3 linked regions of the Homo sapiens genome follow. The protein of the gene in region 1 purifies or fractionates together with the protein of each later gene. This does not show direct contact. Each region holds a gene or a part of one and is shown in the gene's direction. Other genes may lie near its edges.

Region 1 (3,688 bases):
GATGACTTCTTGTATAATAATGAAAAGAAAGGTTTAAATTTAACATAATGCCTTTTTGAATATATGTAGTTGTATCATGTAGGATGCCAAAAGGTTTGAATTTAGTAACTGATCTAATACTGGGCTTGATTTTTTCTATCACAGAACTGTAACTCCCAAGAACAGGGTATTTTCCGCAGTAATGTGAAAAACCTGGTTAATGGTTTCATGGTGTTAATATGCCACCTAGTGGATCAACTTGCACATTCTAACTTGGGGTTTTCAGAGTTGGAAGTGTTCATTTTCCTTTATCAGAATGGCTTGCTCACTAGGAACACCAGCTGAGGTCCAATTACGATAAATCCACTAGTTCCTGATGTTGATATTGCTGATTTTTTTTATGCTCAAGAATTCATTATGAGGGAATTGATAGCAGCAATCATTGTCAGTTTAATTTTTTGTATGGTCTTTTTTATTTTAAAGCTTTTTAGGTGTTTAGAAAGCAAATAGTTGGTTTTTATTTTATTTGGACACTTTTATGCAATGAGGGTTGATGTTTCATGGATTTCTGTGAGAAGGAGAAACCAATTGATAAATTTGCTGATATAGATCTCTAGAAAGGCAGGGAGATTTTTAAAAGAAGATGTAGTAGGATACTTTGAATAGCAGAAACGATTTGCTGACTTACACAATATAATAAGCTCATTCTTGGCTACACACCTGGTGTGTTTATTTCTTATAAACTTTATAGCTTCACTTCTAATTTAGAGTTCCCAATTTTCATCACATATTGTCAGTTTAAAAATAACAAGCGTAACAGCTGTTGTAGAATGTTTATGTACCAGGTATTGTGCCAAGCACTTTATAGAAATGATCTCCAATCCCCACAAAACCCCAAATTAGTACATTATTTCCATTTTAAAGAAGAAGAAATGGGCTCAAGTATTGACACTAATTGCCCTCCATCTCACACAGCCAAGAAGTGTTTGTGCCTGGTAGCCTTTGGTCCAAGTCTCCTTCATAGATCTGAAGCATCTTTTGTCATCACAGAATTATGTTTCCCTATTCTTAAGAAAAGTGGGATCAGCAAATATCAGCTTTACCTTAACGGACTCATTCACGTTTGAGCCCATTTCCCGAGAAGATAATTACATATATTACGTTTTAAAATAAGGCATATAAAAGAACCACATTCCTGTGATAGCTCCCTTTTTCCAAAATCTGACTGCGTTTTTAAAGTTACTATTAGAGAATAGAGAGCCTTGCTTGTTGGGTGTCTGGGACATAAAGTCACAGAAAAATAATTGCATGTTTGCACCATTTAGATCTCACATGTTTAAGTGGTGCAAACATGATCTCCTTCAGGCAATGAGCCATGCTTGCCCAGTGAGCTTGCACGTGGTAATGGGAGAATCCCTCTGAGCATGCATCTCCAAGGCCAAGTGGGCCACAGCAGTTGTGAGTGAGAGGAGGCCATAGCGTCCTAAACTGATCAGACTTGCCAAGTATTCCTACCTGTGGCAAGGGGCTGAAAAGCCCGTGGACTGTACCTTAATGTTGCTTAACAATCCCTGAGGTAGAGAATAAAAGGAATTGTGGAATAACTCTGTGACTTGCCTCGGTTTCCTGATGCCCAGAAACATCTATCTCATTGGTCATCGAGATGAAATGAGGACTGTCCTGGGAAATGGAGTCTTCCTGATTTTAACAAGGTTCTGAAGCAGAAGCAGAGACAAGATTTACTATTCAGGCCTTCTTCCAAAGCCCATTTCCACTGCTCTTCAATAACTGCATCTACCAAATTCTGAATGTTCTCTTCTTTCCCCAAATTCTAACTAGGTTAACTTCATACCAAAACCAGTGTATGACAGTTGAAATAGCAGTTCTTAGAGGTTGTAGTTTCCTGTGTTTTCTTCTGGTTACCATTAACATGGGTATATGTAAAGAATATATATTGGATATATGTATGCTGAATAAAAAGTAGTAATTCATTTTCACCAATGAAATCACAGAGCATGATGTTTCCTAGATAGAGGAGGCTCATGTTTTATAACTGTATTGTTTCAGTTGAGGAAGGAAGGCAATTCTCCAGCAATGCCTTCTTCCTCCACTAGGAAAAGCTTTTACTTTCCTGGTGGTCTTTTTCTACTTGCCCACTAATTATAAAGAACATAAATTATAGATTTAGTAATTACTTGTTTCTTCCCTGTTATCCCCCTTTTGGCAAAGAGCAGAACCAACATAATTTTACCATGCTACCACTTTATTCCCAAATTTATCAGCATAAAATCTAGAACATTTCCAGAATCCTTCTTTCCCTGGTGAGGGAAGGAACAGTAGCTGAATATAAGCTTAACAAGAGTGCAGTGGTGGGATGTTGAATTTAAATGTGTATGCATGACTCGTAGATTTCTATTCATATATGTCAAAAGGAATACTCTAATAAAAAGATTCATTTGATTTTTATTTTAATAAAAAATATATAAATGAGTTCATAGCAGCGCTAATTATACAACTTCTGTCTCTATTTGCAGGTGATAAAAGAAGCCATGGTTGAAAGCATTGAATATAGAAGACAGAATCCATCTCGTTGCTCTGTTTCCCTTAGTAATGTTGAGGCAAGAAGATTTTTCAACAAGGAGTTTCTAAGTAAACCCAAAGCATAGTTCATGTACTGGAAATGGCAGCAGTTTCTGATGCTGAGGCAGTTTGCAATCCCATGACAACTGGATTTAAAAGTACAGTACAGATAGTCGTACTGATCATGAGAGACTGGCTGATACTCAAAGTTGCAGTTACTTAGCTGCATGAGAATAATACTATTATAAGTTAGGTTGACAAATGATGTTGATTATGTAAGGATATACTTAGCTACATTTTCAGTCAGTATGAACTTCCTGATACAAATGTAGGGATATATACTGTATTTTTAAACATTTCTCACCAACTTTCTTATGTGTGTTCTTTTTAAAAATTTTTTTTCTTTTAAAATATTTAACAGTTCAATCTCAATAAGACCTCGCATTATGTATGAATGTTATTCACTGACTAGATTTATTCATACCATGAGACAACACTATTTTTATTTATATATGCATATATATACATACATGAAATAAATACATCAATATAAAAATAAGCATGAGATAACTGAGTTTTTTGTTAATTTTTAATGAGATATTGGACTATTGCTATGAAAGATTCTCATATTCACTGCTTTCAAACGCAAAAGTTGTTCATCCTAAACTCAAGTGTGAAACTTTTAATTTAATTTAATTAATTAATTAATTTTTTTGTGAGACAGAGTCTCACTCTGTCACCTAGGCTGGAGTGCAGTGGTGTGATCTTGGCTCACCACAAGCTCCGCCTCCCAGGTTCAAGCGATTCCCCTGCCTCAGCCTCCCGAGTAGCTGGGACTACAGGTGCCCGCCACCACACCCAGCCAATTTTTAGATTTTTAGTACAGACGGGGTTTCACTATGTTGGCCAGGCTGGTCTCAAACTCCTGACCTCTTGATCTGCCCGCCCCAGCCTCCCAAAGCGCTGGGATTACAGGTGTGAGCCACCGCGCCTGGCTGAAACTTTTAATTTTAAATCATAGGTTTTTTTTCTGAAAGATGAATATATAATTTTTTCAGAAAATGGTATATGTTTATTCATTAAGTAGAAAATATATGTGTAACCACTTCTAATGTAACATTTCCCTTGG
Region 2 (3,655 bases), on another chromosome or scaffold:
TGAGACTACAAAGTCTCAAAAATTATGGATAATCAGAACCAAAATAATTTAAACCAAAAATTTTTAAGTTAACCTATTAAAAATTGGTTTCTTAATTTCATAGTCTTTAGTAAGTGGCATTAAAATAGAAGAACTTGAAGGTAATTTAATTAAAGCACTATTAGCCAATGCTCCAATATGGAACATTCTGGTTTCTACTTAGTTATTATGAAAACTCTGGAAAAGATTAATAAGTAGATTGTTTAAGGCTTTTCCAGAGATGTATGTTTTATTTACATTTTTGCTGCTGAATTCTCACTTTTTCTGTCCTGCAAACACTGTTTTTAAAAACTCTATTGGCCTCTTTCTAAAGCCTTGTCCAAAAGACAGCTTTCAAGAAGAGATTCTTGAGTGACTGCTCATAGGTATGAGGTTTCTTTTTTGGGTGATGAAAATGTTCTGGAGTTAGGTAGTGGTGATGGTTGCACAACTTTGTGACTATACTAAAAATGTCTGAATTGTACACTTTAAGAGGGTGAATATTGCGGTGTGTGAATTATATAAAAATTTAAAAAACGAGGTTCCCTACATAGTAAACTTCTCTTCAGTAGGGTAAACGAATGCTAAAACTCTGAGACCTCTGTCAGCTGAAGTCATAAGAAAACTGCATATTTGTTGGAAGAAAATAAAGAAATGAAGAGCTGCTAAGCATGAATAAGGACTGTCTCTAGAAATTAAAGGGAAGCTTTTAATAAACACATATTTTTCTCTCCCCGAACTTCCCTCCCCCAAATTCAGGAGTTGGCCGAGGAAAAGATATCTCCACCATCACAGGTCATCGTGGGAAAGACATCTCTACTATTTTGGATGAAGAAAGAAAAGAAAATAAACGACCCCAGAGGGCAGCTGCTGCTCGAAGGAAGAAACGCCGGCGATTAAATGATCTGGACAGTGATAGCAACCTGGATGAAGAAGAGAGCGAGGATGAATTCAAGATCAGTGATGGGTGTGTGGTCTCCTACTAGGCCCCGATCCCTAGATACCAGCAGGAACAGGACTGGGCTAGCAGAGAGGCTTGCCCATGCTGTGATGAGGGTTTTCTTCTTCATGTACATAGACAACCTCTGTTTATTTTCAGGATATTTAAAGCAGATTCAAGAATACTAATTTTGGCCCATTTTTAAAGTTTAGAACAGAAAATAGATTTATGGTTGTTTAACATTCAAAATTGTATTTAAATTTTACTAACTACAATTAAACTTTCATTTGTTGAGAGCTTTCTCTGTACCTCTGTGCCACCTTCTGCCAGGTCCATGAGGGGTTTCCAGTCCTATGTGAAAAATAAATAAGATATTATCCTCTCATGACTCATAGAAGTTGGACTTGGGACTGGTAATCCAGTATAGAAGATCAAGAAAGGCTTCTTTGCAGAGTTGGAATTGAAACAATACTGCAGAGTTTCTCCTTTCAGATTATTAGAAGAGGAAACAAGTATATAAACCACAAAAAAAAAAAAAAGTCATTCTGCATAACTGCTACTAAAATACAGGGAAAGATAAATTAGGCTACAGAGGAAAGTTGGCTTAATCCAAAGAGTAAACCTTAAAGTAGAAGTAAAGCTTGATCTGAAATTTGAAGAATGAGTATTTGGAATCAACAAGTATGAGACTAAAAGCAGGATAAGAAAAAGGTATTCTAAGCATAGAAGTCACATGTCCAAGACAGCAAGCCGTAAAATGTCATAGAATGTTTGGGAAACTCCTGTTGGCTCTGGATAGCAGGAATAAGGGGATGAAGTAGAGAGTGCCCTACTGGAGATGTGGTCAAGTGATAAAAAGAGCCAGATTAGGGAGTGTTTTATTTGTCATGCATAAGTGTTTTGACTTTATCCTGAAAATTATACAAAACCAGTGAAGGGTTTTAAACACTAAATTAATATGAGATTTATGCTTCAGAAAGATTCATCCTGGCATTCATTTGGAGGATAGATTGAGGGGAAATGAGACCAGATATTAGAGAAACTATTTGTGGAGTTGCTTTTGTAGTTAAGGTGAGTATGAAAAGCTGAAAACAGAAGAGATCAGGTTTGAGAGATTATCTTTTAAGAGGTAGACTCTAGAGAAATTATTAATTTATTGGATATGAGAAATGAAAAGGGGAAAGTTAGGATAAATACCACGTTTCTGGTTGGAGTTACCGGATGAGTGATGGTGCCAAATACCAGGCCAGGGAACAGAAGAGAGAAGTAGATTGGGAAATAATGAATTCACTTTTGAATATGTCGAATTTAACATGGGGGACATCCCAAGAGGTCAAAGCAGTACAGAAATCAACATTAATTCATCTTTACAACCCCTCCTAAGAGGATAGGTGGCAAAACATTTTCCCCATTTTATAAATAGGGCATTTGATACAATTATCCAGATATGTTGCACTATACTTAATGATTCACTGGGCTCACCAGAATTTGAACTCAGAACTCTTAAAAATGGGTTCACTCTTCTAAATACCATTGTATTTTATCTGATTTCTCTTGGACAGATCTCAAGATGAGTTTGTTGTGTCTGATGAAAACCCAGATGAAAGTGAAGAAGATCCGCCATCTAATGATGACAGTGACACTGACTTTTGTAGCCGTAGACTGAGGCGACACCCCTCTCGGCCAATGAGGCAGAGCAGGCGTTTGCGAAGAAAGACCCCAAAGAAAAAATATTCCGATGATGATGAAGAGGAGGAATCTGAGGAGAATAGTAGAGACTCTGGTAAAAATAATCTGTAACCATATGGTAGCTCAATAAATTATTTTTTGTTTTTCTTGTTGCTCATGCTGGAGTGCAATGGCACCATCTCGGCTCACTGCAACCTCTGTGTCCCGGGTTCAAGCGATTCTCCTACCTCAGCCTCCCAAGTAGCTGGGATTACAGGCATGTGCCACCATGCCTGGCTAATTTTGTATTTTTAGTAGAGAGGGAGTTTCTCCATGTTGGCCAGGCTGGTCTCAAACTCCCGACCTCAGGTGATCTGCCCACCTCAGCCTCCCAAAGTGCTGGGATTACAGGCGTGAGCCAGCACGCTGGCCAGCTCAACAAATTCTTATGACTTCTGGAGTTAAGAGTTCTTAAAATTCTGTTCTTAAGACTTATTTCTGACTAAATTTTTCTCATAGAAAGCACATCTGAGAAAATACATACTGATTGATACGTTAACTTCATATCAGATGCCTAGTAGGATTGTGATGACTCCTTGGTTGTCAAATGTTTCCACTCCTAAACCTTCATCTTCATAGGGTTTCTTGGAAATCATTCTCAATAAACTGTGAACATTTCCCTCAGATGCCCAGCTGTTGGAGAGAGAAGAATACAAGTTAACTCTCATTTAGACCACAGTCAGTGTTGAGTAGTTTTTACAGATTAACAGTAGTTGATGTTGTTATAGAGTATGCTTATCCCTATTAAGTGAGTAAATAGAGGCTCAACCGCTACAAGAAATGAATGCTTTATGTAATTGGCAAATTGATAGGTGTCATCTTATTAGAGAAGAACCATAGATATGAGTATCAGACTCTGGCCATCCTTGTGGGTTTTTTTTGGTTTTATTTATCTTTTTTCCTAAACCATCTAAATAAGTGATGATAATATCATGCCCCTTTATCAGTGATTATTTCCTAAGGACAAGG
Region 3 (3,655 bases), on another chromosome or scaffold:
TTCCCCAAATGTAAAATGAAGGAGTAGGGCAAACTACAGTTTGAGGGGCCAAATGGCCCATGACCTTTTTTTTTTTTTTTTTGAGACGGAGTCTCGCTGTCGCCCAGGCTGGAGCATGGTGGCGCAATCTCGGCTCACTATAACCTCTGCCTCCCAGGTTCAAGCAATTCTCTGCTTCAGTCTCCGGAGTAGCCGAGATTACAGGCTCCTGCCACCACGCCTGGCTAATTTTTATATTTTTAGTGGAGATGTGGTTTCACTCTCTTGGCCTGGCTGGTCTTGAACTCCTGACCAAAGTGCTGGGATTACAGGCGTGAGCCACCGTGCCCAGCTGACCTTTTTTTTTTTTAATGGCTTATGTGCTAAGAATGGGTTTTACATGTTTAAATGATTGTAGAAAAAAAAACACAGCTCAACAACCAAAAAAACAACTCGGTTAAAAAATGGGCAAGCCAGGAGTTTGAAGTTACAGTGAGCTCTGATCACGCCACCATGCTCCAGCCTGGGTGACAGAGTGAAACTCTGTCTGTAAAAAAATTAAAAAAAAAAAAAGAAAAAGACAATCTCAATAGACATTTCCCCAAAGATGATGTACAAATGGTCAATAAACACATGAAAAGATGCTCAACTTCACTAGTCATTAGGTAAATGCAGATCAAAACCATGTTGAGGCCAGGTGCGGTGGCACACGCCTGTAATCCCAGCACTTTGGGAGGCCGAGGCAGGTGGATCACCTGAGGTCAGTAGTTCAAGACCAGCCTGCCCAACATGGTGAAACCCCGTCTCTACTAAAAATACAAAAATTAGCTGGGCGTAGTGGCAGTTGCCTGTAGTCTCATGTACTCGAGGAGGCAGGAGAATTGCTGGAACCCAGGAGGCGGAGGTTGCAGTGAGCCGAAATCGTGCCACTGCACTCCAGGCTGGGTGATGGAGCAAGACTCCATCTCAAAAAACAAACAAACAAAAACATGTTGTGATACCACTTCACACCCATTAAGATAGCTATTATGAAGACAAAAACAACAACAACAACAAAAAAAAAACCCTGGTGTGATGGCTCATGGAGAGGCTAATGTGGGAGGATTGCTTGAGCCCAGGAGTTCCAGGCTACAGTGCGCTATGATTGTGCCACTGCACTCCAGCCTGGATGACAAAGCGAGACCTTGTCTCTAAAAATAAAAAGTAAAAAGAGAGAGAGAGAAATAAATGTTGGTCAGGATGCAGAGAAATTGGAGCCCTGTGCATTGTTGGTGGTGCAGATAATGTTAAGATGGTATGGTGAGTCCTCAAAAAATTAAACATGGAATTACCATATGACCCAACAATTACCATATGATTCATATGGTAATTAAATATAGAAGTAATATGATCCAGCAACAGAAACAAACACAAAACAACAAAGGAGAATATACAACAAAGACTATATGTAGCTCCCTAAAATTTTTACTCTCAACCGGGGGCCTTTACAGAAAAATCTGCTCATCCCTCTTCAAGTTAGGGACAAGTTCAACTCTGCCTTTCTGTACACAGAACTAGCCTTTCTGCAAATGTTCTTCCCTCATATCACAACAAACCTAGCAGGCCAAAAGTGAGCTAAACACCACCTTTCATGGGGATTTAACAATCAGCCATTCTCCTTGTTCCCCATCCAGCCCTAGAGGATACAGGCAGGGCATGGTGTGGTTTTTTTTTTTGTGGGAAAGCCTTAAGTTGAGGACCTGGGTTTCGGGTGGAAGTGCTCCTAGGGAGAGGATCAGTCTGCTAGAGCCTGAAGCAGCGAGCACCAAATTCTTTTTTTTTTTTTTTTTTTTTTGAGATGGAGTCTCGCTCTGTCGCTCAGGCTGGAGTGCAGTGGCACGATCTCGGCTCACTGCAAGCTCTGCCTCCCGGGTTCACACCATTCTCCTGCCTCAGTCTCCCGAGTAGCTGGGACTACAGGCGCCCGCCACCACACCACCATGGCTAATTTTTTTTGTATTTTTAGTAGACACGGGGTTTCACCGTGTTAGCCAGGATGGTCTCTATCTCCTCACCTCGTGATCCGCCCGCCTCAGCCTCCCAAAGTGCTGGGATTACAGGCGTGAGCCACCGCGCCCAGCCAGCAAGCGCCAAATTCTTACACACACACTCACAAGGCGGGGCACCACGGCTGCCAGAATGAAGGATTAAGTCGTGAGTTAACGCTGTTTGCAAACCTTCAAGAGAGATTCCAAAGTAATCTCAGGAATTACCTGAGTGACTGCAGTGACCGTCTAATCCTTTTCCTATTTCTGTTCTTGATCCTTTTCACACAGCAGCCAGAGTGAGCCTTTATAATGTAAATCAGATTTTGTCACCTCTGGTCACAACTCCCAGTGGCTTCTCTCAGTCTTAGAATGAAATCTGAAGTCCTTCCCCTGGCCCACGCGGCCCTTACTGCCTGTCCTGCACGTTCCCTGCCACCACTCTCCCCTTTGCTGACTGTGCTCCAGCCACATCAGTCCTCCTGATATTTCCTACAACATTGTGATAAATAATGTATTTAACGCAAAATTTACTGCTTACCATTTTAATCCTTTTTGATTAAAGGATTCACTGGCATTAAGTACATTTACATTGTTGTGCAGCCATCACCACCATCCATCTCTACAACTTTTCCATCATTTCAATCTGAAACTCTGTACTTAACAAAGAGTGACTCCCTGTTCCCTCCTCCCCCCAGCTCCTGTGAACCACTCTTCTACTTTCTTTCTCTATATGAATTTGACTATTCTATGAACCTCATATAAATGGAATCATGCAATATTTGTCCTTTTGTGTCAGGCTTATTTCGCTTAATTAACATCATGCTTTCAAGGTTCAGCCATGTTGTAGCATGTGTCAGAGTTTCCTTTCTTTTTAAGGTTGAATAATATTCCATTTTATGTATATACCACATTTTGTTTATCCATTCATCTGTTGATGAATATTTTGGTTGTTTCCAGCTTTTGACTATTGTGAGTAATGCTAGTATGAATGTGGGTTAGAAATTTGTTTGAGCCAGGTGTGGTGGCTCATACCTGTAATCCCAGCACTTTGGGAGGCCAAGGGTGGTGGATTGCCTGAAGTCAGGAGTTCAAGACCAGCCTTGCCAACATGATGAAACCCTGTCTCTACTAAAAATAGAAAAACTAGCCAGGCGTGGTGGTGGGTGCCTGTAATCCCACCTACCCAGGGGGGTGAGGCGGGAGAATTGCTTGAACCCAGGAGGCGGAGGTTGCAGTGAGCCGAGATTGTGCTACTGCCCTCCAGCCTGGGCGATAGAGCAAGACTCCATCTCAAAAAAAAAAAAAAAAAAAAAAGAGATCGGCCAGGTGCGGTGGCTTACACCTGTAATCCCAGCACTTTGGGAGGCTGAGGCAGGTGCATCACCCAAGGTCAGGAGTTCAAGACCAGCTTGGCCAACATAGTGAAATCCCGGCTCTACTAAAATACAAAAATTAGCTGGGCATGGTGGCGGGTGCCTGTAATCCCAGCTGCTAGGGAGGCTGAGGCAGGAGAATCGCTTGAACCCAGAGGCGGAGGTTGCAGTGAGCCAAGATTGTGCCATTGCACTCCAGCCTGGGCAATAAGAGCGAAACTCCATCTCAAAAAAAAAAAAAGAAAGAAATCTGTTTGAGTCCCTACTTTATGAATT

Evidence for each region.
Region 2: the proteins of PLA2G4A (region 1) and RSF1 fractionate together in Homo sapiens (co-fractionation; one large-scale study listed by BioGRID). This does not show direct contact.
Region 3: the proteins of PLA2G4A (region 1) and DNAJC17 purify together in Homo sapiens (affinity purification with mass spectrometry; one large-scale study listed by BioGRID and IntAct). This does not show direct contact.

Annotation. Positions count from the first base shown.
Region 1 is NC_000001.11:186,985,864-186,989,551, forward strand, and holds the end of PLA2G4A (cytosolic phospholipase A2), read left to right. Parts: intron 1-2,513; coding exon 2,514-2,645; 3' UTR 2,646-3,118; downstream 3,119-3,688. UniProt on the Homo sapiens protein: Has primarily calcium-dependent phospholipase and lysophospholipase activities, with a major role in membrane lipid remodeling and biosynthesis of lipid mediators of the inflammatory response.
Region 2 is NC_000011.10:77,674,122-77,677,776, reverse strand, and holds part of RSF1 (remodeling and spacing factor 1), read left to right. Parts: intron 1-777; coding exon 778-985; intron 986-2,520; coding exon 2,521-2,741; intron 2,742-3,655. UniProt on the Homo sapiens protein: Regulatory subunit of the ATP-dependent RSF-1 and RSF-5 ISWI chromatin-remodeling complexes, which form ordered nucleosome arrays on chromatin and facilitate access to DNA during DNA-templated processes such as DNA replication, transcription, and repair.
Region 3 is NC_000015.10:40,797,383-40,801,037, reverse strand, and holds part of DNAJC17 (dnaJ homolog subfamily C member 17), read left to right. Parts: intron 1-3,655. UniProt on the Homo sapiens protein: May negatively affect PAX8-induced thyroglobulin/TG transcription.